Linked DNA regions of Homo sapiens: region 2 is linked to region 1. The links come from fine-mapping of genetic effects on gene expression. Tissue or cell type: fibroblasts. Region 1 holds a variant in brackets; the other region holds the start of a gene. All regions are shown on one strand. Distances are between the middles of the regions.

Region 1 (8,261 bases):
CTGCAGGTAGGACCTGGTCCTCATTCTAGAGAAAGTAGCTCTGCAGTCCCAGCAGAAAGAAGCCTGACTTGAAGCTCCACCACTTTGGCTATCTGTTGGGTGTTCTTCAAAAGTGAGTGCCAATTCACTGTAGTACCCGGCACTTGGTCTTCCATGCTTTCATTATTAGGGAAACTAGATTTGTAGCACAGCTACTGGAGAGTACTAGGATCCTAGTAAGCTGGCTTTACAAACATGGTGTGTACTGCCTATTTTTGCTTTTATTTCAGAGAAAATAAAACGTAAGATAATAGGAACAAATACATGTGAACTGCTGGACGGCTATTCAAAAATAGTTTGCCAGAGTAACTGGTAAGCCTGAAATCTGTGTAGCCATGAAAGGGCTCATCATCGGCTTAATTCTGAAGCAAAACTTGGTGAAACACGTGGTGGTTATCTTGGAGGTAAAATGCTGGCTTCCCAGTGGGAAGTGAAAGTGTCAATCAGGTTGTGTTGGGAGATGTGATAAAGGCTGAGGCAGTCTTGCAGCTCATGATTTTATGCAGGGGCTAAGATGAGAAGGATGTTCAAAAAAACCAGGGGATGTTATTCTAGCTTTTGAGCATGAGACAGCCTCAAAGCACTGGGAAAGCTGGATGCTAGCAGGAGGCAGTAGAAATGCAAGTGTGAGAAAAATAAAGGCTGGGCTGGCGTGCTGGCAGGAAATGGATTCGAAAGGCAGGTCTGATAAATGTTTCAGAAAAAGAGAGCTGTCAGGATGAGGTAGAGTGAGCTTGGCAGCCTGGGAGTTGGCATGCCATTGATGGTCAAGACCAAATGCTGTTTCTCCTATCCAGCCAGAAATTTTGCTTTAGAAATGACACTAGGGCTTTGCTCTCAACAACCACTGTCCTCTCTCTCATTCTCCCTCTCACTGGGTTACCTCCTCCTTGTCAGTGACTTCTTCTGTGATACTGACTCTTCCATCCATCATGGGTTTTTTCTCTGATTTTTAAGAATAAGTGGAAATTCCTATATTGTTTGTTCTTTCAATTGTAGAAAATATTGAAAACCAAAAGGAAATAATTTAAAAACACTGTAATTGCACTACGAAGAAGCACTTAGTTTGGTATACAGCCATGTGTTGCTTAATGGTGGGGATATATTTTGAGAAATGTTTTATTAGGTGACTTCATCACTGTACAGATATCATAGAGTACTTACACAAACCCAGATTGTATAGCTGACTACACACCTGTGATATATGGTATAGCTGAGTGCTCCTAGTCTGCAAACCTGTATAGCATGTTACTGTACTGAATAAGGCAGGAAATTGTAACACAATGGGAATCATTTGTTTATTTAAATATATCAAAACATAAAAAGGTACAGTAAAAATGCAATATAAAAGATAAAAAATGGTAGGTACCCGTGTAGGGCACCTACCATGAATAGAGCTTGCAGGACTGGAAGTTGCTCTGGGTGAGTCAGTGAGTGGTAAATGGATGTGAAGGCCTAGGACACGGCTGCACACTACTGTACAATTCGTAAGCACTACACTTAGGCACACTAAATTTATAAAAAATATTTTTCTTTAATAGGAAATTAAACTTAGCTTACTGTAATTTGTTACTTTATGAACTTTTTAACTTTTAACAACTTTTAGATTGTTTTTAAGCAACATTTAGCTTAAAACACAAACTCACGTACAGCTGGACAAAAATATTTTCTTTTTAAATATCCTTACTCTATAAGCTTTTTTCATTAAAAAATTATTTTTACTTTTAATTTTTTTTTGTTAAAAACAAAGACACAAATATACACATTAGCCTGGGTCTACACAGGGTCAGGATCATCAATATCACTGTCTTCCACCTCCACATCTTATCCTGCTCGAAGGTGTTCAGGGGCAATAACACGCACGGAGCTGTCATCTCCTATGATAACAGTGCCCTCTTCTGGAGTACCTCCTCAAGGAACTGCCTGAGGCTATTTTAGAGTTAACTTAAAAAAAATAAGTAGGAGTACACTCTAACAATAAAAAGTATGTAAATACATAAACCCAGTAATAGTCTATTATGATTAAGTGTTATGTACTATACATAAATATATATGCTATACTATTGTAAGACTGGCAGTGCAGTAGGATTGTTTACGTACAGCGTCACCACAAACATGAGCAATGCATTGTGCTACAACGTTCTGATGGCTATGACATCATTAGGTGATAGGAATTTTTCAGTTTTGTTATGATCTTATGGAACAACTGTTGTATCTGTGGTCCATTGTTGGCCAAAGTGTCATCAGGAGTTGCATGACTGTATCTCCTTCCAGACTTGTGTTTATGTGTGTGCTTTTACAAAAATGGAATATATACACTATTCTAGGAACTCCTTTTCTCATTTAATATTCTGTGAAAAGCTAGACTTATTTATGAATGCTTATGAGATGTTTTACTGGCATTTCACACTCAATGTGACAACACCATCCTTATCATTTCTAACCTATACCTCATTTTTTTCATTTTTCATTTCATTAACTTTTTCAACATCTTTTGAGCCCACAGTAGGGGTCTAACCACTTGATAATTGTCTTAGTTTATTTTCTGTTGCTATAACAGAATACCATGGACTGGGTAGTTTATAAAGAAAAGAAGTTTATTTAGCTCATGGTTCTGGAGGCTAGGAAGTCCAAGAGCATGGCACCACCGGCATCTAGTGTGGGTCGTCCCATGGCAGAAGCGGGGAAGGACAGAAGGTGGAAGCAAGTGCACAAGACAGAGAGAAAATTGGGTAAAATTCATCCTTTTTATAAGGCGCCCACTCCTGTGATAACTAACCCACTTTATGATAATGACATTAATTCATTAATCCATATAATCACCTCTTAAAGTTCCCACCTCTCAACACTGTTACAATGGGGATTAAGTTTTCAACACAAATTTTTGGGAGGACACATTCAAACCATAGCAATGGTTAAAATTAAGCTCAGATACTCTCTTTTTTCCCTACCCTTCTCATATTTAATTGTCTCAAAATCACTCATTCATTCAATAAATATTTTTTTCATCTGTCCTTACATGGCCTGTGTGCAGCCTGTGCCCTCATGATTTTCTCATTCAGTGAAATTGAGCACCTACTATGTGCCAGACTTTGTTTTTGGCTCTGGGCATACCAAAGTGAACCAAATGGGGAAGGTACCTTCTATCATGGTGCTAGTATTCTAGAGGGGGAATAAATAATACATCAATATATTAGCTATCCATTATTGCGTAGCAAATTACCCCAAAACTTAGTGACTTACAATAATGACATTTACTATTTTACTGTGTTTGTGGGTTAGGAGTTGGGGCATGCTTTAGCAGGTCCTCTGCTTCAGGGTCTCTCACAGGCCGCACTCATCTCAAGGCTCAACTAGGGGAGAATTGGCTTTCAAAGTCATTCATGTGGTTGTTGGCAGGATTCCATTTCTTGCTGTGTTGGCTACAGGCTACTGCCAATCCTGGCCACATGCACCTCTCTGTTAGGGCAGCTCACAATAGGGCAGCTTGCTTCATCAGAGTAAGCAAGCAAGCAAGAGCCAGAGAGAGAGAGAGAACGAGAGGGAGAGTGCCGGTAAAACAAGAGTCATGGTCCTTTATGACCAATCTTGAAGTGACATCCCATCACTATACCATATCCTATTTGTTAGGAACAAGTCCCTAGGTGGCCCATTGAAGGGGAGGGTGTTACACAGGGTTTGAATACCAGGAAATGGGGATCATTGTGAGCCGTTTTAGAAGGCTGCCTCCCACAGTCAAGAAACAAGACAATTCCAGATCATACTCAGTGCTAGAGAGAAAATAGGACAGGGATAAGACGAAGAGCATCTGGGAGTGTTGGGGAGGTAGTCTTCATTGAGTGTTTAGAGAGGACCTCACTGAGGAGATAACAGTGAAGCAGAGAACTAAAGGGCAAGAAAGGGCCCACCCGGAAAGATTCAAGCCTTCCAGACAGAGGAAACAGAAAAGGCAAAGTGGCAGAATGAGCTCTGCCTGTTTGAGGAAGAGGGTGGAGCCCAGTGACATGGAGTGAATGAGCACGAAGGAAGTGGGCGCCTGCTGAGATGAGGCCCGGGTAATGAGTACATGAAGTGAATAGTGTCTGTGTTTTGAAATACTGAGTAACTTCCCTATGTCACAGCTTGTAAGTGACACAGCACACACAAGGATTTGAACCCGAGTCCATCTGATGCTAAAATCCATGTTTTTGCCACACTAGTGCCTTGCAGAATTTACTAGAAGGGGATGCTGCTGGGTGGTGGTCAGCCACTCCAGGTGCTCATGATGTAAGTAAGACTTTCAGGGCTAAAACCAGGATAGTCCTGAGGAAATTGGGATAGCTGGTCACCCACAAGACACGACAGGAACACTGAGTTCTCTGATGTGATATGAAACCCAGGATGAGCCGGCAGCCCTGAGTCAGCCTGATGAGAAGTCGGCTGTGCCTTTTGTTACCAAGAAAACAAAACTGTAGCATAACCCCACCTTGTTGTTAAAACAAAATGTTTACATTCTTCTGTTCTGCTTCGCTCAAGTCATTCCTGTGGGACAAGCCGACCTAACATACAGGTGTAGTCAGGGGCTAGGAGAGACCTAGGCAGGCCCTTGTCCATTCTCAGTCACTGAAGTGAGACCTAGGGACTCAGGAAGGACTCAGAGTTCCCTTAGTCATCATTCCCTCTGGGCA[T/A]CCTGCTTTTGGCATAATTACTGATACGAGCACCTCGTGTCCCCTCCTGAATTATACCTACCCCCCCGCCTCCCCGCCCCCTGCAATTGCTTAGCACAGTATCTGGCCCATGGAAGTGACTTCATGGAAATTCAGCGGATGAATGACTGGACAATGAACAACGCACAGCAATGTGTGGTGTGACAGAAAAGGCTGCACCAGCAAAAATTGGAAGCTGATCTTTGGGTATTTCCTTGCCTTGGTCACTTTGCAATTTCCTGGGTGCTTGAAACAGGAAGTCAGTGACTCTAAGCCCCTGTGGGATCTGGCACCTCACATCAAGGTATCTGGAAAGTCCTTATTCTTCACTTCTCCATGCGATCCTACCCTACAGACCAGCCCTCCTTTTGGAATCTCTCCTGCTACACATTCTGTGACCCTGGGACTCTCTCTTATTTTATTTATTTATTTTTATATGCCCGTGTTTCCAAAGGAATAATAGGGCAGTTAAATATAGCTATGACTGTGCCTTTCCAGAGCCCAGAAAAGTCTGGAAAACTGGGAATATCCAAAGCTCAGGATGATATTGCGCACACAAAAAGTACTAGGCAGAGTAGTGTTTAGATAGAAACAGAGTAATGTTTAGATAGAAAGCAGACTCAGTCATATAAAATATATGCATATACAGCATGATCTGCATTTCTGTGATGCTTCTGAAGTACAGAAGCATTCAGCACTTCAGTAACTCTTATTGCAAGTTACCTCTTCAATCATTTTTCTTCAATCATTAAAATGCTTTAAAAAATTTTTTAGCTTATTGAGGTATGACTGACAAAAATTTTAATATATTTAAAGTGTACAACTTGTTTTGATATATGTATACATTGTGAAATGATTACCACAATCAAGCTAATAAACATGTCCATTATCTCACGTTACATTGTGTGAGAACACTTAAGATCTACTCTTAGCAAATACCAAGTATTTCGAGTATATCAAGTATGCAATATATTATTACTATACACTCACCATGCTGTACATTAGAGCTTCAGAACTTATTTATCTTATAACTGAAAGTTTGTACCCTTTGACCAATGTCCCCATTTCCACCATTCCTAGTGACCACTGTTCTACTCTGTTTTTATGAGTCTGGCTTTTTTTAGATTCCACATGTAAGTGAGATTATACAGTATTTGTCTTTCTGTGACTGGCTTATTTTACTTAGCATAATGTCCTGCTGGTTCATCCATGTTGTTGCAAATGGCAAGATTTCCTTATTTTTTTAAGGCTGAATACTATTTCATTGTGTAGTATACACCACATTTCTTTATCCATTCATTCATTGATGGACACTTACGTTGATTCCAAATTTTGGCTATTGTGAATAATGCTGCAATAAACATAGGAGTGTAGACAGCTCTTTGACATATTGATTTCATTTTCCCTGGGTATATGCCTAGAAGAGGGATTGCTGGATCATATGGTGGTTCTGGTTTTAATATTTTGAGGAAACTCCATATTGTTTTCTATGATGGCTATACCAATTTACATTCCCGCCAATAATGTATAACAGTTCCCTTTCTCCACATCCTTGCCAACACTTATCTTTTGGCTTTTTGGTACTAGCCATCCTAACAGGTATGAGGTGATGTTTTATTGTGGTTTTGATTTGCATTTCCCTGATGATTAGTGATGTAGAGCACATTTTTATATGCCTGTTGGCCATTTTTATGTCTTCTTTGGGAAAATATCTATTCAGATTATTTTCCCACTTTAAATCCAGTTATTTGTTTTTTTGCTATTGAATTGAATTTTTTATGTATTTTGGATAGTAACCCTTTATTATATATAAGGTTTACAAATTTTCTCCCATTCTATAGGTTCTTTTTTTCTTTATTTTACTATAAAGTTTAAAATCTTGTTTTAATTTTTGTGGGTACATAGTAGGTGTATATATTTATGAGGTGTGTGAGATGTTTTGATACAGGCAAATTGTGTCACAGAAAATCCCCTCAAGCATTTATCTTTTGTCTTATGATACAATTAAACTCTTAGTTATTTTAAAATGTACAATTAAATTATCGACTATAGTCACCCTGCTGTACTATCAAATAGTCGGTCTTATTCATTCTTTCTAACTATTTTTTGGGTACCCATTAACCATACCCATCCCCCCGCCTCCCCCTTACCCACCTCTATAGGTTCTTTTCATTTTGTTAATTTTTTTCCTTTGCTGTGCAGAATAAAATGCTTTTTCAAAGCAAGTTAAAGCTGCTCTCTACTTAGATTAAGAAATCAACTTAAAGTATTATATATATATATATATATATATATATTAAAAAAAAAAAGAAAACATCTGAAGTGGCTCCAGCAGAAGGAAAGGCAAGATGGGAATCAAAGTTTAATCTACATTCTTTCTGCTTCTCCTTTTCTACCAACACTGTGTTCAACTGCATAACAATAGTACCAATGAGCACGAGAAAGATAGTTTTTAGTTTAAAGACTATTTCAGTTTTAGTCAGACTACTTCAGACCTCAGACTCCAGACTTCAGACTCCAGACTTTAGACAACAGACTCCACATGCCACACAACAGACTTTCAGACTCCAGCTTCAGACTCCAGACTCCAGATCGCACACTTCAGACAACAGACTCTAGACAACACACTCCAGTCTCCACATTCCACACGACAGACTACAGACTCCACACTCCAGACAACAGACTCCACACTCCAGACAAGAGACTCCACAATCCAGACAAGAGACTCCACACTCCAGACAACAGGAGACTTTTAGACTCCAGATCAGACTTCGAACTTCAGATTCACTCCAGACTTCAGACTCCAGACCAGACTTCAGACTCCAGACCCAGATTTCAGATTTTAGACTTCAGACTCCAGACCAGATTTCATATTTCAGACTCCAGACCAGACTTCTGACTTCAGACTTCAGACTCCTGACCCTGGATTTCAGACTCCAGGCTTCAGAGTTTGGACTTTGGACTACTTCAGCTTTAGTCAGACAGACAACTTCAGTCACACCACTTTTCACCTCTGCCATCTAATCTCGTCTTTTGAACAACCCCCTAAAAAGGTAACATTCCCAAGAAACCCAGACCCAGAAACACTGAATGACATACTCAAGACTACCCAACTAGTAAGGGGGAGGCCACAGTTTCCCTTACCCTGGCAACATGCACATGGCAGGCCCTTCACTTAGCTGGTAGAAGGAACACAGGCTTGGGAAGGAGATGTCTGATGTTCACTCCCTGACGACACTCTTACTTGCTTCAATGATCTCTCTGAGCCTTGGGTGGCCCATCTGCTAAACAAGGATGAGTTATTTCCTGGGGATGCTAAGAGACTTCTGCCTCATGCCTGCAGTGCTGCTCATGTTGCCCCCTTGGAATTACTTGTTCAACTTCTTTCTTCCCCACTAGACTGTGAGCTTCTTCAGGTCAAAGACCAGGACTTTCTTGCCATTAACCCCAGCAACTAGCATCATGCCTGACCAAAGGGCATGCTGATGACAATAAACATTGATTGTCCGAAATCACATGCCTGGTCCCCAGTAGGCG
Region 2 (8,261 bases), 110 kb after region 1:
GGTGTCTGTTCTCATGAATAGGACCTTGTGTTCTAGAGGAAATGATGCACAATAAACAAGCAAACAAAACAACTGCCTAATGAAGTAAATTATATGAAGAAAATAAAATGTGTGATAAAGAATTACCAGCAGAGGGCAAGGGCTGTCACTCTTTAGATAGGGTGGCTAGGGGAAGATGAGATGGAGGCCAGCATGCAGGGTGTCCCCCTCCTCTGAGGCCCTTGCCTTCGCTCTCTTCCCTCTTCAAACAGTAAGAGTGTTCCCATTAAAGGTAGACTGATCCTATTGTCTTCCTGCCTGAAATCCAACATGGCTCACAAGGCCTTGTATCCCATTTCAGCCTCCCCTCTCTCCACTGCCCCTGCACACCCTCTGCTCCAGCCAAGCAGAGCTTTCCTGTCCCTGAATGCTCTCCCTCCACTCCCAGCCTCCATGCTGGGTTGCCTCATTTCTGCTCACCCTTGGATCCCACTTACTCCAGGACACCCTTTCGGTGAGGCCCCTACCAGGATATATACTGACCTTGAACATTGTTACCAGACTGCATTGTTGATGACTTATTTACTTACCTGAATCTGTAGGTGGCCAGCGCTGGCCTCATCCCCCCACTGAATCCTCATGTCTGGTGCATGGCACACTCAATGTGTTTGGAGACTGCCACCCCGATTGGCTTTCATTATCTCTCACCTGAACTGCTGCCTCCAAACTGATTTTGTCACTTTCAACTCTTCCCTCACAAAACCCACCTGTTAGAAAAATCTTTCTAAACCAAGTAGCAAAGCCAGAACAATGAACTCAGAAACTAGTGATGACCCTGGACCACATGTGAGTGCCAGGTAGGAATGTTAGGTTTAGAGGGCTGTATTCATTGGTAAGGAATTCATGTCACAAGGCAAGGCTGCATGCCTGTGGGTGGAGAGGAGGGGCTGTGTATGGCCTGCCCCCAGGCAGAGAGCAGTTTTGGGGAAGTGGTGGGTCCTCTCAGCTCTCAGGAGAAATCCGAGCCTGGAAAGCAAGCCTTAGACAAGCAGAAGAGGGAACTCCTAAACCCATGGTCTCTGCTCTCACACTCCAAATTTTAGGAGTTTCAAACATACCTAACCAGTTGCAGGCTCAAAAGACCCCAGGGGTTGTAGCTGGGGAGGTGGAGGATGGGGAATAGGGAGATGGTGTTTGTCCAGTAAGGTATGCTGGAGTTAGGGTCTTACATCATAAGATTGTACGTTACTGTTCATTTATTCATTCAATAAATATTTATTGAGGCCCTGCCGTTTGCTGAGACTGTTCTAGGTCCTGGAAATACAGGAGCGAGCAAGGCAGACCACATGGCTTTTCTGCTGGAGCTTTCATGCTGAAGGAGGTTCTTAGACAATCAAATACACACATAGACATACTTCAGGTAGTGATAAGGGTGATGAAGGAAAATAAAATAGGGTGAGGTTCAAACCAAAGGGAAGCTATCAGATAATAGGCTGGTCAGTAACTATCTCTGTTTTCACTTTCTTATCCCTAGCTCTAGTAAAGTCAAGAAACCAGCACTTCTTGAACTTTGATGTGCAAATGAATCACCCTGGGATCTGGTTAAAATGCGGATTTCAATTCAGTGGGTCTGGCGTGGGAACTGAGACTGCATTTTTAACAGGCTCCCAGGTAATGCCTTGGCTGCTGGTTCCTGGACCACACTGTCTTGCCATATGGGATTAAGGGAAAAGCTGTGAGTCCCTCCTAGGGCAGCCTCAACAGAGAGGCCATACCTCCTGAGGGCAGCAGACTAGGCAGTGATGCCAGCCTTAAGGAAGAGCAAAGATCAGCAGCAAATCCACCAGTACTAGATCCTCTGACACTCCTGGCATGCATTCATCAATTCAGAACCTCCCTTTCGATAATCTGGGTTTGAAACCAGCAAGAAAGTCATGGAGTTTCATTTTAAGTTTCCCCATTTTGTGGTACACAAGCCCCTCCACAGCCTAGCCCACCCTTATTTTTTGCTATAAGCATTCCTGACCCCTAGGTTTCTGGCAGTCAGAGTGGACAGTCCCCTCTCTCTGCCTTGTCCCATGGCCATCCATCCCAATATTAAAAAAAAAAAAATCTCCAAGCCATTTGGTACTGTTGTTCCCTCCATCTAGAATTCTCTGGCCCATGAGGTCAGATCCTGTCCATTCCCCAACACCCAGCTCGAATGCCACGCCCTCACGGGTTGGAGGAGAAGGGGGTTAGTCAGGAGCAAGCCCTTCTCAGAAATCCTACAGTTCTTTGCCTGAACCTATTTTGGGACATTAATCTCTTCCTACCCGCTCTGTGAGTGATTTTTGTTGTTGTTTAAGAGTTATCTTTGCCCTTAAGAGTTATTTTTGTCCTCGTTTTACGGATGGGATTTGGGTTCCTCCAGGTAAGACCTACCCTCCTCCACCCCCAAATCCTCCTGGTACCTGGATGTAGCCTAAGAAGAATTGTCCTATGAACGAAGAATAAATTAAGATTGGGTTTGCAATTGACGCCAGCAGAAGCAGAAATGGGCTAGGTTGAGCACCAGGCAAGACAAGCTGACGATCAGGGTACACATCTTGAATCAGAAACCCTGGGCACAGACCAGCAGTCTGCGTGGTAACAGGCCCTCCGAGTGATTCTGATGACACTCGAGTTTGAGAACCAGGGCGGTCTAGCCAAAAGCCTGCAGTACACCCCTTCCCCTCTCTCGCAGCTTACGACCTTGACCCTGGGCTCTGGGGGCTTCCGCCGAGGAGGGAGGAGGGCACAGGCGGTCACAAAGGAGGGCGGGAGTGGAAGGGGTGAGCCTGGAAGAGAAAGTGCGAGGATGCGAGAAGAGGGATGGAGCGAAGGAAGAGGATCAGAAGGAGGAAAGGAAGGTAGCGGGGAGGGCACAGAAGTGGGGAGGGAGGGAGTGGAGGAGGGACTGGCACCCCGCACGGTGGCATCTTCCAGAAGGTCATGCGTCCGTCCCCACGTCTTTCCAGGGCCGGTTCTCCCCGGTGGGGCCCGGGGTCTTGGAGACCAGTCTGTGCAGCCTGCCCGGCACCAGCGTGAGCCCCGGGACCCCGGCCTGGCGTCCCCCACGCCCGCGCCCCCGCGCCAGTACCTGCTCCTGCTGCGGGGGGGCCTCCAGCACCGGCGCTGCCTTCCGCGCCGCCGTCCCCGCGGCCATGCCTGAGCCACTGTGCCTTCTCCAGGGCACAGCGCCTGCCGGGGAGGGTCCCGCAGAGTCCGCAGAAGGAGGCGCCGCGGGGCCTCGGGAGCCGAGGGTGAGAGCCGGATCTGCGGCGGCGGCGGAGCGGCGGCCCTGCCCGGGTTGTGCGGGGCGGGAGATGGGAGCCTCCCGGCACGCCCCGCCTCCGCCCCCTGCACGCTGGCCAGCGTCCTCCCCAGCAGCGGCCTCGAGGTCCCGGTCGCCAGCACCCCGGTTCCTTCAGAACCTCAGGCCTCCCATTCAGCCAGCCATTGTCGCCGATAAAGCGTCTTGAGCCCTACCGGGTGCGTGTGGCGGGAACCCCGGTTTTGTTACCGGGCGGCAGGACTGGAGGAGGGGTCAGAGGTGGGTAGGGAGAGAGAGGGGAGTAGAGGAGTGAGAAATGGCGGTGGGGGGGCGAGGGGTGCTGGGGAGGAAGAGAAGAGAGAGAGAGAGTTTCCTCTCCCTCAGAGGTGTTTATTAGGAGGCAGGAGTTCGGGTGGCTGTGCAGATACAGACTTTCCTCAGTTATCTGTGCTTCCTCCAAAGATGATGAAGGAGAGAAACTCCAATCTAGGGAGAGCGCAGACCATCTTGGCCCCTATGCTGCTCCAGGCCATGCAGGGCCCCTGCGACGCAAGCATCTTGCCTTTGCCCCTCTACCTCCAGGGTCTCCCCTCCCGCCTTTACAACTTAGGCCTAAGCCTGGCTTCAAGGTTGAGAACAAGCTGGAACGTTTAGGCAAGCCTTTAGAAATACCTGGGTGTTGATTTGGGGAAACAGAAAAGAGGAGCACAGAATTAGATGATGTGTCCTACGAAATACAGCTTACCCCTTTCCAGTTTGTGATGGCTCGTATTTGTCAACACCTACAAAGGAGGTGAACAGACCAAGATGGACATTTCTCTGCCATTGTGGAACGTAGAGCCTAACAGGGGATAGAGAAAAATAAGCATCTAAGTACAATTTATCACGGATGGTGCCTTGGTTTTCCAGCCTTAACTGGGCATCAGAATCCTATGGAGGAATGCTGAGTTTGTTAAAACTCAGAGTGCTGGCCAAGCACAGTGGCTGATGCCTTTAATCCCAGCACTTTGGGAGGACAGGGCGGGCGGATTGCTTGAACCTAGGAGTTTGAGACCAGCCTAGGCAACATGGTGAAGCCCCATCTCTATAAAATATACAAAAGTGAGCTGGGCGTGGTACACCTGTAGCCCCAGCTACTCAGGAGGTTGAGGCTGGAGGATCGCCGGAGCCCGGGAGGTTCAGGCTGCAGTAAGCCGTGATGGAACCACTGCACTTCTGCCTGGACAACAGAGCGAGACTCTATCAAAAAACAAAACAAAAATCTTCAGATTGCTGGAGTTGAGCCCTAGAGTTTTTAATATAGTAGGTCTAGGGTGGAGCCTGAGCATTTGTCTTTTGAACAAGTTTTCAGGTGCCGCTGGGGCTGTTACCTACATCTGAAGACTACCTTGTAGCATGATCAGAGTGTGTTGGAAAGAGTGTCTGAGATGGAGAGAACAGTGGATGCAAGGGCCGGAATGCTGGAGAAGGCATAATGAATTGGAGAAATAAAAATCATGGTTAACATTGATAGAATGCTTACCGTGTGCCAGGTGCCGTCCTGAGCACTCTACCTGTGTTAGCTCATTCAGTCTTCCTGACAATCCTGTGAGGTGGGCATTGTGACCGTCCGTGTTTTACACGGGAGAACACTGAAGCACAGAGAGGTCCAGAAGTTTGTTCAAGTTTTGAAGCTAATAGGTGGGGCAGTGGGAATTTGAACCCAGACAAAACTGACTTCATGGTCTGGGTTCTTAATCTCTCAAGGAAGTAGCTGCGAAGGTCAGCAAGGGCCAGATCCACATAAATCATATTAAACAGTTTGGACTGTAGCCTCAGGAGAATGAGAAGCCATTACCGAGTTTTAAGCAAGAAAATGACATTACCAGACTTGCCTTTTGGCTTCAAGAGTGGGGAAGAGGGCTATGACTATGACTCAAGACAGAGAGACCAGCCAGAAAGCTATTGCTGTAGTTTCAGCTCTAAGGATGACAGTGGCCTTGGTGGTGAGAGTGTGTGCGGGGACAGAGTGGAGGGGAGATGGAGAGATGTGTTTGGGGATGGGAGATCTAGGTAATAGAATCTACTGTACTTGACTCATCTCCAAGGATGGTGCCCAGGCATGTGGCTTGGGCAGTCTAGCATTTGGGCAGACAGTGCTGCCATTGCTGAGAATGGGAACATTGAAAGAGCAGCAGATTTGGGGACACAAAAATAGTGGGTTCATTTGGACATGTTACTTCTCTACCTATCTTGTGGCCTGCCTTCATGTGGCAAGAGCCATTTTTTCTCTCCAGCCCAGGATATCCTCACATTCATCTAGATTCTCCCAAGGCAGCAAAATAATAAAATGAAAATAGTCCATATGGAGATAGATGTTCCCTTTCTATAAAATTCTGACCTGTTATTGTTATATAAGTCTCAGGTCCCAGATTTGAAACTCTCTCTCCTGATTGATTGGCACCAAAAAGACCCACATACTTCACTGGAGACCCATGTATGCACAAAGGTATCATCTTCCTTCTGGCTTCAGCTCAGCAATCATATCAGAATAAAACTCAAAAAGTGCATTTCTTCCCCATCAGTAACGATGGCTTTGCTCTAATCTATCCTCCTCTTATACCTGGTTTCTTCTATGATCAAATTGCAGATATTCAGAATGAATATTTAATTTCCCAGTCAGTTAGGCAATGCTCTCTGGAGTAGTTCACTGAAACAAGGTTAATTAATTTGAAATTTTGTTTTCCAAATCAAATGGTTGGCGGCTGACTCTGTCTTCTGTCCTGGAATAGATGAACTGTATTCTGCTGCTTAACACTAATCTCTTCAGCATTTTATCTGTAGTCTGTGCATCCTTCTTCATGTCCCGCAATGTAGAGTCCTGAGGTGGTTGTAATGATGTAATGGAAGAAATTAGCTAATGTGGTAAATGTGTTTGAGAAACAAGGTGGGGTCAAGAATCACTAGTCAGTTGATTGTCATATTTGGTGCAGGAATCAACAGACTCAAGGAACAGAATGGGCACATACATTTATGGAAAACTAGTTTCATGAGAGGAGTAGCAAATCAGCAGAAAAAAATAGATTATTTAGTAACTGGTTTATCCATAAGAAAAAAAAATTATACCATACCAGCACAAAACTGGTGGTTAGAAAGCAATAGTTTATCTAAAAGAATGTTTTTATGGTCTCAAGATAAGAAAAGATATATTAAACAAGACTCACAAAGAACAAATGGCAAAGAAAAAAGTTTGCCTGTATTAAAATGAAAAATTTCTGTACAACAGAAACTTGCGGTTAAAAAAGAGGCAAGCCATGAACCAGAATATATTTGTATATAACTCATTGACAAAGGACTAGTACTCAGAATAAGTAGAACTGCTAGAGATTAATTTTTAAAAAGCGTAGATCAATAGAAATGGGCAAGGGATATAAATCAATTTGTATAAATAAAATTATGAGACTTTAAAAATAATTTTAAGGGAATTAATGATTGAATTTATTAATATGTGGATTAATTCAGAGTACACACTTCACAGGAATGCTTGTATATGTTCAGTTACTTGTTCCGCAGTGGCTCCCTCCAGCCTTCCTACCCTAGACCACTCAGCAATTTTCCCCATTTCTCCTCCACTTTCTTGGGGCCACCAAACTTCCTTGGGCCAGTGGTGCCACCTAATGGTTAGATCTTGCAGAATGCCATTGTATTGCTTTACAAATGATCTTTTTCAAGTAACTTCCATTTTCAATTTACTCCTTTCCTCATTTCTCATCTTTTCATATTTCATATACCATATACAGATATCTCATGTCTTTTTCATATTCCCAGATAAAATGTGTATTTGATCCCTAGCATTAAGCTAGAATAAATGATTCAGAATGTCTCCAGCCAGGTGCAGTGCTGGTCACATGTGGAATAGGATGGCAGAGGGAGACTCCATGCAACTGGCAGAACTTCTCCTCTGTGAAGGGGATAGCAAGAGCAGGTTCATCTACATGAGGGCAGGGCAGGGAGGTAAAAATCCATCCAGGCTGTGTGAATATCCAAGAGCTTGTCTGATCTCAGAAATCAGTATGAAAAAGACACCAAACTTTCTGGACTCCAGTGGTTCTTGGGGCCAGGGTTGGCTTTGTTATAAATAGGAATAATCACCCAAGAGGGGAGGAACGCTGAAGCCAGGTCCCATCTTGGCTGATGAAATAGCTGCATAGGAATGACTAGGCTAACTTCTTTTCAGTCGTCCTAACCCTCCATTCCACCCCCTCCCCAAACTCCTTTCTGGGTGCTAGGTTGGTCTTCACATGCAGACACTAGTTCCTTAGAATTGACAGAAATCCTGCAAGTTGGTCTGATTCCCAACTGTCGGGGTTCCTGACTTAACAGTCCCAGTTTTCCTTGGTCCCTCTGCCTAACTGGATAGACATTTTCATCTTCCTTTAATTAAATCTGTTTTTGCCTAAGCACTAGTACTTTTTTATCTCATCCTTTAATTATTAGTATTGTAACACTATTGATTTCCACTCTGTTGGGCTAAAATGTATGGTGTTTAGCTATATTATGGTTACATGGCTTTTTGTGAGCTGGCTTGTAGCCCTAATTGCCATTTATAAAATTGCTTCTATGGGAAAGTGCATTCTGCCTTTCAAACCACAGCCTTCCAAACACACGAACACAGTTCATTTGTGAGCTGGGAACCATCAGTATTAATGTCTCTTGGCCCATGGCAGCCCCACAACCAAATGACATGTGGTTTAAGGTTCGTGTAACAGCCAGTTCATTTAAATAATGTTAGCTAGGACTCAGCTTTCAGGTTCTCGGATTTCTGGTTAATTTCGAATAGAAGAGGCAGCAGAGTTGCAGCATTCAGACAGTGTATGCATGGTGCTCCCTGCTCCTTATTGAGTAATGGCACATTCTTTCTTTTAATGGTTTACCCTGCAGGTTTTAGGAGTCAGCCTCTTCTGAAGGCAAGCTTTTCAGTTCTGTTGAACAATTGATCTTGGAAAAG

Alleles and levels. Positions count from the first base shown, and alleles are read on the strand shown. Sizes are in standard deviations (SD) of each study's normalised expression.
As copies of A replace T in region 1, the expression in fibroblasts of the gene that starts at base 3,328 in region 2 goes down (moderate effect, 0.66 SD a copy in GTEx).

Evidence for each region. PIP is the estimated chance that this variant, and not a neighbour inherited with it, causes the effect.
Region 2: it holds the start of RNF175, and the variant in region 1 is fine-mapped to the expression of RNF175 in fibroblasts (GTEx, PIP above 0.99).

Annotation. Positions count from the first base shown.
Region 1 is chr4:153,647,730-153,655,990 of GRCh38, forward strand. It overlaps the pseudogene LOC100419170. Among named protein-coding and RNA genes, the nearest start is that of TLR2, 32 kb to the right of the region's middle. The variant T/A (reference allele first, on the strand shown) is at 4,707.
Region 2 is chr4:153,756,697-153,764,957 of GRCh38, forward strand. It overlaps RNF175 (ring finger protein 175), which reads right to left and starts at 3,328. Exons shown (of 9, transcript NM_173662.4): 1 at 3,101-3,328. The coding sequence starts at 3,166.